Linked DNA regions of Homo sapiens: region 2 is linked to region 1. Evidence: fine-mapped expression QTL. A gene starts in region 1. The other region holds a variant in brackets. All regions are shown on one strand. Distances are from middle to middle.

Region 1 (8,335 bases):
ACACCAAAGCCGAGACCTGAAAGCTGAGTACCAAGGATGGAGGCAGGGAGAACTCCAGACAGAGGAAAGGCATGTGACATATGTTCTTTTCAGGAATATTCCAAACCTGAGGAAGAATTAAATCACAAGTAAAATGAAGCAAACCTTTTAGAATCGCACATTTAAAGGAAAAAAAGAGCACTTTTCATCACAAACAGAAAAATTTACAAAATATGAACTCAAAAATCATGGGAATGCCAGGTGCAGTGGTGTGTGCCTGTAATCCCAGCTATGCAGGAGGCTAAGGCAAGAGAATTGCTTGAGCTCAGGAGTTCAAGACCAGCCTGGGCAACATAGCAAGAATTCTTATCAAAAACAAAACAAAACAAAGTAACGGAGGCCAGGCGCGGTGGTTCACGCCTGTAATTCCAGCACTTTGAGAGGCCAAGGTGGGTGGATCACCTGAGGTCAGGAATTTGAGACCAGCCTGGCCAACATGATGAAACCCCATCTCTACTAAAAATACAAAAAATTAGCCGGGCGTGGTGGCGGGCGCCTGTAATCCCAGCTACTCAGGAGGCTGGGCCAGGAGAATCACTTGAACCTTGGAGGCAGAGGTTGCAGTGAGCCGAGATCACACTGTTGCACTCCAGCCTGGGCGACAAGAGCAAAACTCTGTCTCAAAAAAAAAAAAACAAAAAATTTAGCCAGCGTGGTGGTGGGCACCTGTAATTCCAGCTACTCGAGAGGCTGAGGCAGAATCGCTCGAACCCAGGAGGCAGAGGTTGCAGTGAGCTGAGATCGTGCCACTGCACTCCAGCCTAGGCAACAAGAGCGAAACTCCATCTCACAAAAAAAAAAAAGAAGTAACGGGAGCAATTTTATGCCAGGACTGATAACCCCTTATCCAATCACTGACATCTGGCTAGAAGTCCCCAGACACTAAACCCTCACCCCTCAACAGAGGAGGTATCAGTTCCCTCTGGTCATTTGCAGCTGCCTCCAGGCCTTGAGTGAGGCTGCCAGAACTGGGCCCAGTAAAGTGGGGTAGTCCGAGCATGAAACACTTACTCCAAGACAGGAGGGGCTCGGCCCTGAGGCTGGATCTACCCCTGGGCCAATATTTCTGGTGCCAACTAAGAGTGCCAGGCATTGTACATAGGGATGGATGATAAGACATGATACAGTCACAGCACCAGGGAAGTAGAAAAGGAAAGAAGGGACGCTTCCTTGGCTCCAAGGAGGGGATGGTATCTGAAGATGGGCAAGACTTGGAGATGGAGAGAAGGAGCACCCCAACAGTGGGAATGACAAAAGCAAAGGCAAGTAGGCTGGAAAGCACTGGCTGTGCAGCTAGCGCTGCAGCGGGAGCTGGGGACAAGGGGACAGAGATCCGGCAACGGTGCAGAGTAGGCCCAGAAGAGATGACAATGCTATCTTCAAGGCGGTGTTTGGAGACCTGGTCAAATCCCAAGATCTGCCCAGACTGACCCTATGGCCAAGGGCCCTCAGTTTTCTACCGTGAACTAGTGCAAAGTTTCTCAAATATTAGGGTCATTAGGATCACCTGGGACAGGTTGCCAGGCTCCTCCTCCAGCGAGGACCTTCAGAGGTCCCAGGGTCTAGGGACTTTCTCAGGAGAGGTGAAAGCTGAGTAAAGAATGGCCAAGGGCCCAAGAGGACACTGTGGGCAGACAGTACAGCATGTATAAGGCCCACTCCCTACATAGCTAAGGTATGAGGTGCATGTAGACAAAGGAGGAGAGGTGAAGCCAGAGAAGTGGACCAGGCTCACAACACAACAGCCCTACCAATAAACTGGGACTTCACCCCGTAGGCAACAAGGAGCTATCAGAGACTCCCGAAGCCTGTAGGATCCTGGCAACAGCTCCCCTAGTCACTCACATAATACAACTCCTGTCTCAGCATGCTTCCCCAACCAACATCAGTCTCCACCCTTTAATATTACCTACTACTCCTTAAAATCTGGCCTCGGATCCCCTCTGTACAACTATTAGGTCAAAATCAAATAAGCAATTTGACCTAGGCAATTCACACTATGTCAGAAACACATCTCAGACAAGGAGAGCCAGGCAGTGAAGACAGATGATAAACAGAGATGGAAGCTGTCATGGAGGCAGACTGGTCCAGCCTGGGACAAGGCGGCCAGCTGTGCTCTCCCCAGATCATATCTGTTCCTCTTGAGCTTTCTCTTCCTCATTCGGAGGAACTCCAGGCTTCTCTAAATGGGTTCATGACCCTTGGAGGAAGGGGAAAAAGGGACACAGAGAGGAGATAAGATGGTTCACAATGAGTTTGACCAGATCCTACTGAAATACCTTAAGAGCAATGAGAAGTGTCACTGCAACTTCAACACTTCCAGAGGCCTCACCAAGGCCCTCTCCAGTTGCTCAGGATGACTACTGGTGACCAGTCCCATCCTCAGAAGTCAAAAACTGAGGAACATAAACAGAGGTGCAGACTCTGAAGGCAGTGCTGAACCCTGCAACGTTAGCAAAATGGGGGCGCGCGGACTCTCCTGGGGGCTGCGCTTAACTGGGGGAGAGGAAAACGAGGCGGTCATTAAAAACGCAGCTCCACTCCTCAGCACCAGCTGAGGGCGTCTGGCTCCCGGACACGCCCCCGAACGAGCCCTCCCGCAGGTTGTGAACACTACATTGCAAGCGGGCAGCTCAGGGAAGATCCTACCCGCTAGTTCCCCGGATCCCCTCCGGGAGCGCAAACTGACCTCGCCTAGGATGGGGTGGGCCACCCACCGGGAGCCCCCAGCCGCGGCCCGCTCACCTTGCACTTGAAGCCAGCGGCGGGCGGCAGGAGCTCCCGCAGCAGGCCCTTGGCCACCTCGCGGCTGGCCTCCTCGCTCACGAAGTGAAGGTTAAGCACCTCGTGCGCCTCGAACTTGGCGAGGCGCAGCAGTGAGCGCAGCGCGACGCGGGCCTTGGCCTGCAGCGCGGCATTGTGCTCCGCCTTGGTGAACATCATCAGCAGGTGGTAGTCCACCGGCCCGGCACCGCCGCCCTCCAAGCTCTTGGCCTTCGCGCCGGGGGCTGGCGCCACGGAGCCCCGCGCTAGCTCCAGCGCGGGCGGCGAGGGCGCGGCGGGAGCCCCGGCGCGGGCCTCCTTCAGCCTCTTGGTGGCGCTGGAGAAGGTCTCCCGGCCTGAGCCGAGGTAGTAGAAGGCGCAGACGGCCAGCGCCGCGGCCAGCAGCAGGGCGCAGTAGTGGGAGCGCACAGCGCCCAGGCGCGCCATGGCCCGAGCGCATGGGAGCCCGCCTCGGAGGAGGCCCATGCGCTACGAGACCGCGGCGCCAGCGGTGCCAGCAACGCGGGAGAGCCCTCGGGTACCCGGACGCCGGCGGCCACTTAGCCCCGGCGCCAGGCGGCGGCCATGAAAGGGGCGGGGCCGCGCCGCCTGGAGCCAATCGCGGGCGCCGGTGCGCGGAGGGGCGGGGCCGGGCGTGCCGAAACCGCTGGGTCCTAGGTTCCAAGGGTATTAGAGGAGGGGTTAGGGTGGGATCCGGCGCCCGGCGTTGGGAGGGGGGGATTCCGGACTCCAGCGTGCTGAGGGCTGGCCCGCTGTCCCGGCTGAGAAATGGCGCCCTACGCGGCGAGCCCCAGAGGATATCCAAGCTGAGTGTTGAAGGGAATGGAGGCGCCCGAACAGAGGAACTTAGGTTAGCCAAAAGCGAAGCTGGAGGCACCAAGAGGTAAAACTTTAATCTCTGCACCTTTTTTCCCTCAATTTCTTGGAGGCTTTAAGCCGTCTCGGCCTCTCCCTGCACACGAGCTGCAGCTAGGCAATTTAAACCGGCAGCTCCTCCCTTTTCCCCCGCCCTGGGAGGAAATGGCCCGGGCCGCACGTCGCGCCGGAGGCCGAGCGGAGGGAGGCTGGAGGATGTGGCCAGCAGGGGGCCCCCGCCGCCCGCACGAACCTGCGAGGCTGCTCCCCGAGCCCCAGCACCGCAAAGCCCTGGAGGGCGACATTCATCCACTTTTGTTTTATAAACAGACTTTTAACACTTTATCAAGAGCCTCCTTGAGGGTACCAGGGAGTTTTGCACGCCGAGGTCACGTGCCCAAAGTCACACAGCTAGCCAGTAGCAATTTTGACCCTAGGCAGTTGCACACTGCTAACTAGATAAAAACGTACTAACTTCAGTCTTCTAAGAATTGAGGCTATACCAGTAGTTTTTAAGTAAACACGTGCAAGTGCTGTGCATGCTGTCTAAATAGACAAAGAACTTGAGTAAGTACAGTAACCCTTCAGTTCTTTGGCCAAGTTCTCTGATTTCTGACCAGAGATTAGGTAAACGGTTTTTCCTGTTATTTCCACATTGTAAGGTTGCATGGATTATCCAACCTCTCTGCTTCAGACCTTGGCTTACATGTCACTACCTACACAAATGATCTCTAAATACCTCCTATCCAGTGTCTGGGCTAAGTGCCATCCTCAATAATTCTGTGAGGGCCACCTAAATATATGTACTACCCTAGTCTCATCTTTCTTCATTGCAAGAACACGTGACTCCAAGAGAACAGAATATACATTTGTTTTTTATTAACCACAATATACCCAGTACCTAACACGGTGCCTACCACATTGGATGAGTCTCAAAAATATACTCAACCATTGAAACAGCATTTTTATTTCTAGAAAATCTTCCTAATAATTTAAGAATGTTCAAAATATTTAACCATAAGAATAAAGCAAGGCCAAGCATGGTGGCTTAGGCCGGGAATGGTGGCTCACGCCTGTAATCCTAGCACTTTGGGAGGCCGAGGAGGGCAGATCACCTTAGGCCAGGAGTTCGAGACCAGCCTGCCCAACATGGCGAAACCCCGTCTCTACTAAAAATACAAAAAATTAGCCAGACATGGTGGCGGGCGCCTGTAATCCCAGCTACTCAGGAGGCTGAGGCAGAAGAATCGCTTGAACCTGGGAGGTGGAGGTTGCAGTGAGCCGAGATCATAACACTGCACTCCAGCCTGGGCGACAAGAGCAAAACTCTGTCTCAAAAAAAAAAAAAAAGTAGGCAGTGTGGTGGCGGACACCTGCAATTCCAGCTACTCGAGAGGCTGAGGCAAGAGAATCGCTTGAACCTAGGAGGCAGAGGATGCAGTGAGCCGAGATCATAACACTGCACTCCAGCCTGGGCGACAAGAGCAAAACCCTGTCTCAAAAAAAAAAAAAAAGTAGGCAGTGTGGTGGCGGACACCTGCAATTCCAGCTACTCGAGAGGCTGAGGCAAGAGAATCGCTTGAACCTAGGAGGCAGAGGATGCAGTGAGCCGAGATTGTGCCTCTGTACTCTAGCCTGGCGAAAGAGAGCGAGACCCTGTCTCAAAAAACAAACATAAAAATAAAGCAAAGCTAGGTTCATGATGGCAAAAAATCAGAATCAAATGGTCATCAATAAAGTGGTTAAAGCTAAAATAATGCAGTCATTAAAAGTGATGTTTTCAACAAACTGCAGGTGGAAATTTAAAAAACTAACAAATGGGTGAGGTGGCTCATACCCGTACTCCAAGCTATGTGGGAGACTGAGGTGGGAGGATCACTTGAGCTCAGGGGTCCAAGGCTGCAGTGAGCTACGATCGCCACAGGACTCCAGCCTGGATGACAGTGCGAGACCCCAATTCCAAAAAAAAAATAGTAATGGTAACAAATGGAAAAAAAAACCTACAGAGACTAAGAAACATATTCACCAACTGCAACGTATGGAACTTATGTGAATTCTGATTTGCACGATCTATTTTAAAAATCGTATTTGAGAAACCAATTTGAATATTGATTATGTAGTTTTACAGTTTAAGAAGTGTTACGATTTTTTAAAGTCCTCAACTTTTAGATGTACATACGGAATGATTTGCTGGTGAAAGGTCTAGGATCTGGTTCCAAAAAGTCCAGGAAAGGGGAAAAATGGGTAGGAGAACAAATATAAGCCATGAGCTTATAGCTATTGATTTTCTCTACCTGTACATGCTTGAAATTTCCCATAAAGTTCTCCCCATCTATTAAGTGAAAGAAGTGGGTAACTGTATGATCCCATTATATAAATGTATGAATACACACACCCAAAGGTCTAGAAGGGTATACACAAAAAAGTAACAGTATCTCCCTCAGTGCTATCCAGTAGAACTTCCTGTGACAATGTATATATTCTACAATCTCCCCTGTTCAAAACAATAGTCACTAGCCACATGGGGCTATAAAGTTCTTAAAATGTAGCAGTACGACTGAGGAAATGAACTCTTTGTCTAATTCCAATTAAGTAGCCACATGTAGCTAGTGAGTTCCATTTTGGACAGCACAAGATAATGGAATTGTGGATGATTCTCTTGCTTCTTCTTAACATTTCTCCACAAGCAAAAAGCTTTGTGTTTGCAATAATTGAAAAATTAAACTGTTTTCACTTAAAATATTTATAGACTATTGATGTGGGTTCTCCACAGAACTATTCTGAAAATGAAATGAAGCTGAATAAAGCAAGTTATATTGAAAAGTTTATGTGTCTGCTTTCAATTAGCTTTTTTTTTTTTAAAGCAAATGCAGGTGATACACTTCCAGTTTGGTTTTTTCAACCTTCCATTCCTTCAGTCCCAATTCACTGACAAACGTGTGTGTGTCTGTTTACTAAAAGGATAAAATGGGAATGTGCTGCATAGATTAGGAACATTAATGTCAATCATAATGGAAAAAACTTAGAGCAAGCCCCTCCCCCCACCCCCCAAAAAAAACCTTTTATCTTTTTGCCAATGAATTAGGGGCTATAACAGCTCTGTGAACAAAGAGAATTATATACTTAAAAGATCCAAATGGATTTCTTGATTGAAGTAATCAGCAAATAGGATGAATGTGGATTTGAAAGGGCTGGGAAGAAATACCTTAAAAATAATAGTACCTTAAAAATAACTGCTGTTGACAGATATGTTCACAGTGTATTTCACAAGAAAATGTAAATCACCATGAAAGAACTAAGCCAGAGGTGAGATCTTTATTGACTTATTGTAATTTTTTGGCATACAAATTACTTAAGTATATTTACAATTCTTACATAATGTACATTTTAGAAGATAATGTACTTTGCTCCATTTACAATGACAAACTACTGTAAAACTACATTCATGAATTAGATACAAATCCTCTACATACTAATAAAAAGTAAATGGACTGTTGGTTATACATTCTTTAAAATATACCTTTTCACAGGTAGCAAGAAATAGTACATGTAATAAGTCTTTATGACTGGAATGATCCAGAAATATCACAAAGCATGAGTAAACACATATATAAAAGTAGCTCATCATTTCCAAAAGTTAACCTTTAGCCTTTGTGTAAAATAAATGGTGCCAACAATCTTTATAATGTAGCAAGCTTTCCCTGTTTAATATCCAAAAAATGGAGGGTGGGGAGGTTGAAGAAAAATAAGAAAAGTTAGCAAATAAGATAGTGAAAAGACCAATGCAGAGAAAAGTTTATGTAATCAAATCTTGCTTTGTCTCCACATTATCACATTTTAAGTGGATAAATTTATGTAAACAGAAAAAGATGTCCACAAAACCATATCTGTAGATGTCATTTGGAAGCATCAAGAAATTGATAAGTATGTGGTGAATTAAAATTACTTTTATAATGTTTTGCTTTCATTAATGTTTGTTATTGCAAAAATGTAAGATTTCCTACAATTTTGTCTTCAAATCCCAATCTAGCCCTTCAAACTTTTATCCAGGTTCTCCAGAATATTTGGAGTCTTTGTTATCAAAGCACAAGGAAAGCTGGCATTCATTATCAGACTTCGCTGCTTTACAATGATTTCAAATCATTTCATGATACAAATAAAGTGCCTCTGACTGGTGGTCAGTCAGACCTGGGTAATGGTGCCAATTCTGCCACCAGCTAGCAAATCAAGTGACCCTGCTCTGTAAAACAAAAGGAGCACCCTAGGATCAAAAAAGTAGACAACTTTGGAGCTTAGATTAAGATCTCAGAAATCCTACCATGAGAATCCAGTGAGATAAAGCAATGCCAAGTACACTGTAAGTAGCAAAACAGTATACAAAGGGATGCTTCTATATTTTCACCTTGTTTCATTACACTCATTTTAATTGTGAGGAGCCCTGAATCCAAAAAGGGTAGTGACGACTAGTCCAGTGCTCCTTCCACCGTATCATGCGGTTCTAAAGTCATTCTGGACATACAATCTACAAAAATACATCATTTTTCCAGCTCATGTCCATGATCCAAAGTGATATTATACACAAGTGTTATCTGACAATATAAGAATGATCTGGGAATGTCTGTTCAAAACGGTAGTAAATTTAGTCTTAAACACAATT
Region 2 (8,335 bases), 180 kb before region 1:
CCGTACTCTTTTCAGAGGTCCAATTCTTTCCCTAAAATACTTAGGTCAGCCCTTGCAGCCTGCTGTTCTTCACTTGCTGTATTTTAGTGAGTTAAACCACCCAAGGATGTTCTAGGCAAAACTCCCACCACTACACACGATCACAGGACTCCATCGGCCCCAGAAACCCAACCCCAGGGATTCATTCATTCAATTAGGCTTCAGGGTCCAGGATGTGAAGAGCACAGTGAATCACACAGACACCCTCATCCTGGAGAGCCCACTCTGATGGCAGGACCATTCTCCATGCTGGGGACAGTACACCTTGGCTCTTGGCAGGGGAGCTTCTCTAATGGTGCCCAAGACAGCAGCTCCTGCCAGTTGCAGAAGCTGAGGGTAGGAAAGGGAGGCCTAGCAAGGCAGCCACTTCCAGACCCTCGAAATGCCAAAAACCTCCAGAGTGTGTGGTTCATCTGAGCAGCCGCAGAGTCTTCACGTGGACGTAACCTTCTCCCAAGCAAGGATGACCCCCATGGGAGTTACAGTGCTCTAAATCCTCTCCTTGCACGAGGTCAAGTAGGAAAAGAAATGATTGCCATATGAAAGTTCAAGTTGGGGACAAAAGGGGCTGAGTGAGGTCCCTGGAGAACAGTTCAGAGGAGCACGGGCTTTGGAGAGAGAATATCTGGATTTGCCCTTTGGCTCAACACCCCTTCCGACCTCTCCAAACCTCTTGGGAATGGTGACTCAGTACCAGTGTCACAGTCCTGGTCCCCACCCCTGGCCCTGCCGCTCCGGCTCCAAGCTGGTTCAGAAAATACGCAACTCACCCAAGGTGTCCAGGTCTGGCATCTCTGCCACTCTCCCATCCCTGGTTCCCTAGAATGGAGCCTCCATCCCCATGTCTAAGCATGCCAGCGCATTTCACCAGAGACCGCGGTGGGAGGGGGGAGTCCACCCAGTTCTACTCGAGAAGCACAGCAGTGCGGTCAGAGAGAAAGGAGCAGGAGCTTAGCTCCTGTGCTCCCTCACAGCTCCAAGAGCCCAGTCATCCTGCGGGCCGCGGTGGGCAGCCGCGAGCCACAACCGTGTCTGGTGACAATCCTAGTAGAGTTCCAGACTGATGCGGCGAGACCACTCCATTCCACCAGGGGCTGGCCCAGAGTTTGGTTCAAAACCGTCAGGTCGCCACTAGCCTCACTGTCCTTCGACTGTGGTGACAGAGCCACTGCTCTGAGCACTCACCTCATACCCAACACAGGAAAGAGGTGCCTCAAAAGCTTGCTGGGCTAGCCTCCTCCCCCACCCCGAGGCTAGCCCCTGAGGCAGCTGCCCCCACTCACCTCTGTCCTCTGTGCTGTCAGGCCTTGCGGAGGCCAACACTCACTATGACTCGGTGGTGCCCGAGCTGCAGAAGACCCAAACTTGACTTTTCAAGCTTCTCTTTCAAGGACTGCCTGGGGCCTGTGGACAGGGGCAGCTGCATTAAAGGCCATTTGTACACACAGAGCACACCTGGGCAAAACAGACCTGGTTTCCAGCACCCCCAAACACCCAGCTTGCCCCCAGCCTGCCCCACAGCTGGCCGCGCTGTGTGCCTCGAAGCCTTACAGCTCAGCACTCTACAGCACTGTCCTTGCTTTTAAATTTTTCTTTTTTTTTAAGGGAAGAAAATCCACAAAACAATCTGTCCTTCTGACAGGCCAGCTCAGATTCCTATCGTGCTAGGTTGGATCAAGGAGCATCATTACGACGGCTTTATCAGAACTGTCTGCTTCAGAAAATAAACAACTTATCAAAGGTAGCCAGGTCTGGCGTCTCGGCCGCTCCCCTACCCCTGCTTCCCTGGAACAGAGGCTGTTTCCCTGTCTCCATGCATGTGAATGCATTTCAGCAGAGACCACAGACCTGTAGGGGAGAAGTCTATCCAGTTGTATTCAACAAACACAGTGGTTAGGGGCAGGGGCTGTGGGGTCAGAGGCCTGACTATGAGCCAGGGCCAGTTTAGGATGGGCCCTGTGAGGAAGGTCAGGGAAGCTGACCTTGCTGCTAAAGGGAACAAAAGGTTTGAAGCGAGGTATGAGGAAGGTCACTCTGGCTGGGTGGGCACTGGCATGGAGGAGGAAGGGCTGGAAGCAGCAAGACCAGGCAGGAGGATGCTTTGGTGATGGGGGGGAGGGTGGCAGTGCCAAGGATGGAGACAAGCAAAGGGTTTAGGAGATACTTAGCAGGTGTATGACTAGCTCTAAGAACGGATGCATGTAGGTGATGAAGGGGGACAAAGAGCTCCGGGTCCTGGCTTCTGTCTTGAGCATTCTGGCTATGGGGTCAGTGGCAGTGGCTGTTCTAATCATGATCAGTGACTTGCATGATGACACTGGCCAGGCCCCTCCCCGATACCTCCCACCTGTACCACAAGGAGGGAGAGTGGCCTCCTAGGCCTTCCCAGCTCCAGGTCGCCTTGGTGGCAGCACTGTGGTCACCTCCTCCTGCCTCGGTGCAGCTTCTCTAAACTCAGGGCAGGCTGCGGGGAGCAGTAAGGGGGCTGGGAGGCACTGCCCGTGTGGCCCGTTGACACGCCACCGTCTCTCCAGGTGGCCTGCAGCAAACCCGCCTTTCCTGCTCCTCTGGACACAGCCGGCCTTGCCCTTGCCAGGCTGCGTGTGGCCCTGGAGCTCCTCTTCCGCCCTCTTCCCGTTTGTACCCACTCTCCAGGGAGACATTTTTCCCCTTTAAACTGGAAATGTGCTCCCTGGCTCCTCCTCAGATCCCTTGTGCTTGAGTTGCTTCTCCAGGCCTTCCAGATAAATCTCTTGAAAATCTGCTGTGCTTGGGGTGCTCCCTGTGAAAGCAGAAAAGCATCTGAGCTACCCTCCCTGTCTCTCCCCACTGCGCGCTCTATTCAGGTATCAACACAGGTATGCCTGGAGCTGGTAGAGCACAGAGACAAGGCAGTCAGGCTCCCTGCACGCAGGGCCTGCAACTTCTCAGCTCTCTCCGGATAGGGCACTGGGGCCTGGGCTTACCCAGAACAGCCAACTGGAATTTGAATGAACATAAAGAGTGGAATTTTTAACAGCCAGATCAAAGCGGGCATTAAAATTAGATGCTACTGGAGGAGCCAAGATGGCCGAATAGGAACAGCTCTGGTGTACAGCTCCCAGCGTGAGCGACGCAGAAGACGGTGATTTCTGCATTTCCATCTGAGGTACCGGGTTCATCTCACTAGGGAGTGCCAGACAGTGGGCGCAGGTCAGTGGGTGCGCGCACCGTGCGCGAGCCGAAGCAGGG[C/A]GAGGCAAAGCCTCACTTGGGAAGCGCAAGGGGTCAGGGAGTTCCCTTTCAAAGGGAGTCAAAGAAAGGGGTGACAGACGCACCTGGAAAATCGGGTCACTCCCACCTGAATACTGCGCTTTTCCAACGGGCTTAAAAAACGGCGCACCACGAGATTACATCCCGCACCTGGCTCGGAGGGTCCTACCCCACGGAGTCTCGCTGATTGCCAGCACAGCGGTCTGAGATCAAACTGCAAGGTGGCAGCGAGGCTGGGGGAGGGGCGCCCGCCATTGCCCAGGCTTGATTAGGTAAACAAAGCAGCCGGGAAGCTCGAACTGGGTGGAGCCCACCACAGCTCAAGGAGGCCTGCCTGCCTCTGTAGGCTCCACCTCTGGGGGCAGGGCACAGACAAACAAAAAGACAGCAGTAACCTCTGCAGACTTAAAGGTCCCTGTCTGACAGCTTTGAAGAGAGCAGTGGTTCTCCCAGCACGCAGCTGGAGATCTGAGAACGGGCAGACTGCCTCCTCAAGTGGGTCCCTGACCCCTGACCCCCGAGCAGCCTAACTGGGAGGCACCCCCCAGCGGGGCACCTCACAGGGCCGGGTACTCCAACAGACCTGCAGCTGAGGGTCCTGTCTGTTAGAAGGAAAACTAACAAACAGAAAGGACATCCACACCAAAAACCCATCTGTACATCACCATCATCAAAGACCAAAAGTAGATAAAACCACAAAGATGGGGAAAAAACAGAACAGAAAAACTGGAAACTCTAAAAAGCAGAGCACCTCTCCTCCTCCAAAGGAACGCAGTTCCTCACCAGCAACAGAACAAAGCTGGATGGAGAATGACTTTGACGAGCTGAGAGAAGAAGGCTTCAGACGATCAAATTACTCTGAGCTACGGGAGGACATTCAAACCAAAGGCAAAGAAGTTGAAAACTTTGAAAAAAATTTAGAAGAATATATAACTAGAATAACCAATACAGAGAAGTGCTTAAAGGAGCTGATGGAGCTGAAAACCAAGGCTCGAGAACTACGTGAAGAATGCAGAAGCCTCAGGAGCCGATGCAATCAACTGGAAGAAAGGGTATCAGCAATGGAAGATGAAATGAATGAAATGAAGCAAGAAGGGAAGTTTAGAGAAAAAACAATAAAAAGAAATGAGCAAAGCCTCCAGGAAATATGGGACTATGTGAAAAGACCAAATCTACGTCTGATTGGTGTACCTGAAAGTGATGGGGAGAATGGAACCAAGTTGGAAAACACTCTGCAGGATATTATCCAGGAGAACTTCCCCAATCTAGCAAGGCAGGCCAACGTTCAGATTCAGGAAATACAGAGAACGCCACAAAGATACTCCTCGAGAAGAGCAACTCCAAGACACATAATTGTCAGATTTACCAAAGTTGAAATGAAGGAAAAAATGTTAAGGGCAGCCAGAGAGAAAGGTCGGGTTACCCACAAAGGGAAGCCCATCAGACTAACAGTGGATCTCTCGGCAGAAACCCTACAAGCCAGAAGAGAGTGGGGGCCAATATTCAACATTCTTAAAGAAAAGGATTTTCAACGCAGAATTTCATATCCAGCCAAACTAAGCTTCATAAGTGAAGGAGAAATAAAATACTTTACAGACAAACAAATGCTGAGAGATTTTGTCACCACCAGGCCTGCCCTAAAAGAGCTCCTGAAGGAAGCGCTAAACATGGAAGGGAACAACCGGTACCAGCCGCTGCAAAATCATGCCAAAATGTAAAGACCATCGAGACTAGGAAGAAACTGCATCAACTAACGAGCACAATAACCAGCTAGCATCATAATGACAGGATCAAATTCACACATAACAATATTAACTTTAAATGTAAATGGACTAAATGCTCCAATTAAAAGACACAGACTGGCAAATTGGATAAAGAGTCAAGACCCATCAGTGTGCTGTATTCAGGAAACCCATCTCACATGCAGAGACACACATAGGCTCAAAATAAAAGGATGGAGGAAGATCTACCAAGCCAATGGAAAACAAAAAAAGGCAGGGGTTGCAATCCTAGTCTCTGATGAAACAGACTTTAAAGCAACAAAGATAAAAAGAGACAAAGAAGGCCATTACATAATGGTAAAGGGATCAATTCAACAAGAAGAGCTAACTATCCTAAATATATATGCACCCAATACAGGAGCACCAAGATTCATAAAGCAAGTCCTGAGTGACCTACAAAGAGACTTAGACTCCCACACATTAATAATGGGAGACTTTAACACCCCACTGTCAACATTAGACAGATCAAGGAGACAGAAAGTCAACAAGGATACCCAGGAATTGAACTCAGCTCTGCACCAAGCGGACCTAATAGACATCTACAGAACTCTCCACCCCAAATCAACAGAATATACATTTTTTTCAGCACCACACCACACCTACTCCAAAATTGACCACATACTTGGAAGTAAAGCTCTCCTCAGCAAATGTAAAAGAACAGAAATTATAACAAACTATCTCTCAGACCACAGTGCAATCAAACTAGAACTCAGGATTAAGAATCTCACTCAAAACCACTCAACTACACGGAAACTGAACAACCTGCTCCTGAATGACTACTGGGTACATAACGAAATGAAGGCAGAAATAAAGATGTTCTTTGAAACCAACAAGAACAAAGACACAACATACCAGAATCTCTGGGACGCATTCAAAGCAGTGTGTAGAGGGACATTTATAGCACTAAATGCCACAAGAGAAAGCAGGAAAGATCCAAAATTGACACCCTAACATCACAATTAAAAGAACTAGAAAAGCAAGAGCAAACACATTCAAAAGCTAGCAGAAGGCAAGAAATAACTAAAATCAGAGCAGAACTGAAGGAAATAGAGACACAAAAAACCCTTCAAAAAATTAATGAATCCAGGAGCTGGTTTTTTGAAAGGATCAACAAAATTGATAGACCACTAGCAAGACTAATAAAGAAAAAAAGAGAGAAGAATCAAATAGACGCAATAAAAAATGATAAAGGGGATATCACCACCGATCTCACAGAAATACAAACTACCATCAGAGAATACTACAAACACCTCTACACAAATAAACTAGAAAACCTAGAAGAAATGGATAAATTCCTCGACGTATACACTCTCCCAAGACTAAACCAGGAAGAAGTTGAATCTCTGAATAGACCAATAACAGGAGCTGAAATTGTGGCAATAATCAATAGCTTACCAATCAAAAAGAGTCCAGCACCAGATGGATTCACAGCCGAATTCTACCAGAGGTACAAGGAGGAACTGGTACCATTCCTTCTGAAACTATTTCAATCAATAGAAAAAGAGGGAATCCTCCCTAACTCATTTTATGAGGCCAGCATCATTCTGATACCAAAGCCAGGCAGAGACACAACAAAAAAAGAGAATTTTAGACCAATATCCTTGATGAACATTGATGCAAAAATCCTCAATAAAATACTGGCAAAACGAATCCAGCAGCACATCAAAAAGCTTATTCACCATGATCAAGTGGGCTTCATCCCTGGGATGCAAGGCTGGTTCAATATACGCAAATCAATAAATGTAATCCAGCAGGTAAACAGAGCCAAAGACAAAAACCACATGATTATCTCAATAGATGCAGAAAAAGCCTTTGACAAAATTCAACAACCCTTCATGCTAAAAACTCTCAATAAATTAGGTATTGATGGGATGTATTTCAAAATAATAAGAGCTATCTATGACAAACCCACAGCCAATATCATACTGAATGGGCAAAAACTGGAAGCATTCCCTTTGAAAACTGGCACAAGACAGGGATGCCCTCTCTCACCACTCCTATTCAACATAGTGTTGGAAGTTCTGGCCAGGGCAATTAGGCAGGAGAAGGAAATAAAGGGTATTCAATTAGGAAAAGAGGAAGTCAAATTGTCCCTGTTTGCAGACGACATGATTGTATATCTAGAAAACCCCATTGTCTCAGCCCAAAATCTCCTTAAGCTGATAAGCAACTTCAGCAAAGTCTCAGGATACAAAATCAATGTACAAAAATCACAAGCATTCTTATACACCAACAACAGACAAACAGAGAGCCAAATCATGAGTGAACTCCCATTCACAATTGCTTCAAAGAGAATAAAATACCTAGGAATCCAACTTACAAGGGATGTGAAGGACCTCTTCAAGGAGAACTACAAACCTCTGCTCAAGGAAATAAAAGAGGATACAAACAAATGGAAGAACATGCCATGCTCATGGGTAGGAAGAATCAATATCGTGAAAATGGCCATACTGCCCAAGGTAATTTACAGATTCAATGCCATCCCCATCAAGCTACCAATGACTTTCTTCACAGAATTGGAAAAAACTACTTTAAAGTTCATCTGGAACCAAAAAAGAGCCCGCATCGCCAAGTCAATCCTAAGCCAAAAGAACAAAGCTGGAGGCATCACACTACCTGACTTCAAACTATATTACAAGGCTACAGTAACCAAAACAGCATGGTACTGGTACCAAAACAGAGATATAGGCCAACGGAACAGAACAGAGCCCTCAGAAATAACGCCGCATGTCTACAACTATCTGATCTTTGACAAACCTGACAAAAACAAGTAATGGGGAACGGATTCCCTATTTAATAAATGGTGCTGGGAAAACTGGCTAGCCATATGTAGAAAGCTGAAACTGGATCCCTTCCTTACACCTTATACAAAAATCAATTCAAGATGGATTAAAGACTTAAACGTTAGACCTAAAACCATAAAAACCCTAGAAGAAAACCTAGGCATTACCATTCAGGACATAGGCATGGGCAAGGACTTCATGTCTAAAACACCAAAAGCAATGGCAACAAAAGACAAAATTGACAAATGGGATCTAATTAAACTAAAGAGCTTCTGCACAGCAAAAGAAACTACCATCAGAGTGAACAGGCAACCTACAGAATGGGAGAAAATTTTCGCAACCAACTCATCCGACAGAGGGCTAATATCCAGAATCTACAATGAACTCAAACAAATTTACAAGAAAAAAACAAACAACCCCATCAAAAAGTGGGCGAAGGACATGAACAGATACTTCTCAAAAGAAGACATTTATGCAGCCAAA

Evidence for each region. PIP is the estimated chance that this variant, and not a neighbour inherited with it, causes the effect.
Region 2: its variant is fine-mapped to the expression of XXYLT1 in whole blood (TOPMed, PIP above 0.99).

What each region holds. Positions count from the first base shown.
Region 1 is chr3:195,267,771-195,276,105 of GRCh38, forward strand. XXYLT1 (xyloside xylosyltransferase 1) reads right to left here and starts at 3,389. Exons shown (of 4, transcript NM_152531.5): 1 at 2,785-3,389. The coding sequence starts at 3,288. It overlaps ACAP2 (ArfGAP with coiled-coil, ankyrin repeat and PH domains 2), which reads right to left. Exons shown (of 23, transcript NM_012287.6): 23 at 6,975-8,335. RefSeq lists an enhancer at 2,628-3,419 and silencers at 2,670-2,849, 3,010-3,539, 3,790-4,019.
Region 2 is chr3:195,084,580-195,092,914 of GRCh38, forward strand. The region is part of intron 3 of XXYLT1 (xyloside xylosyltransferase 1); the gene reads right to left. Among named protein-coding and RNA genes, the nearest start is that of XXYLT1-AS1, 5.8 kb to the right of the region's middle. The variant C/A (reference allele first, on the strand shown) is at 3,271.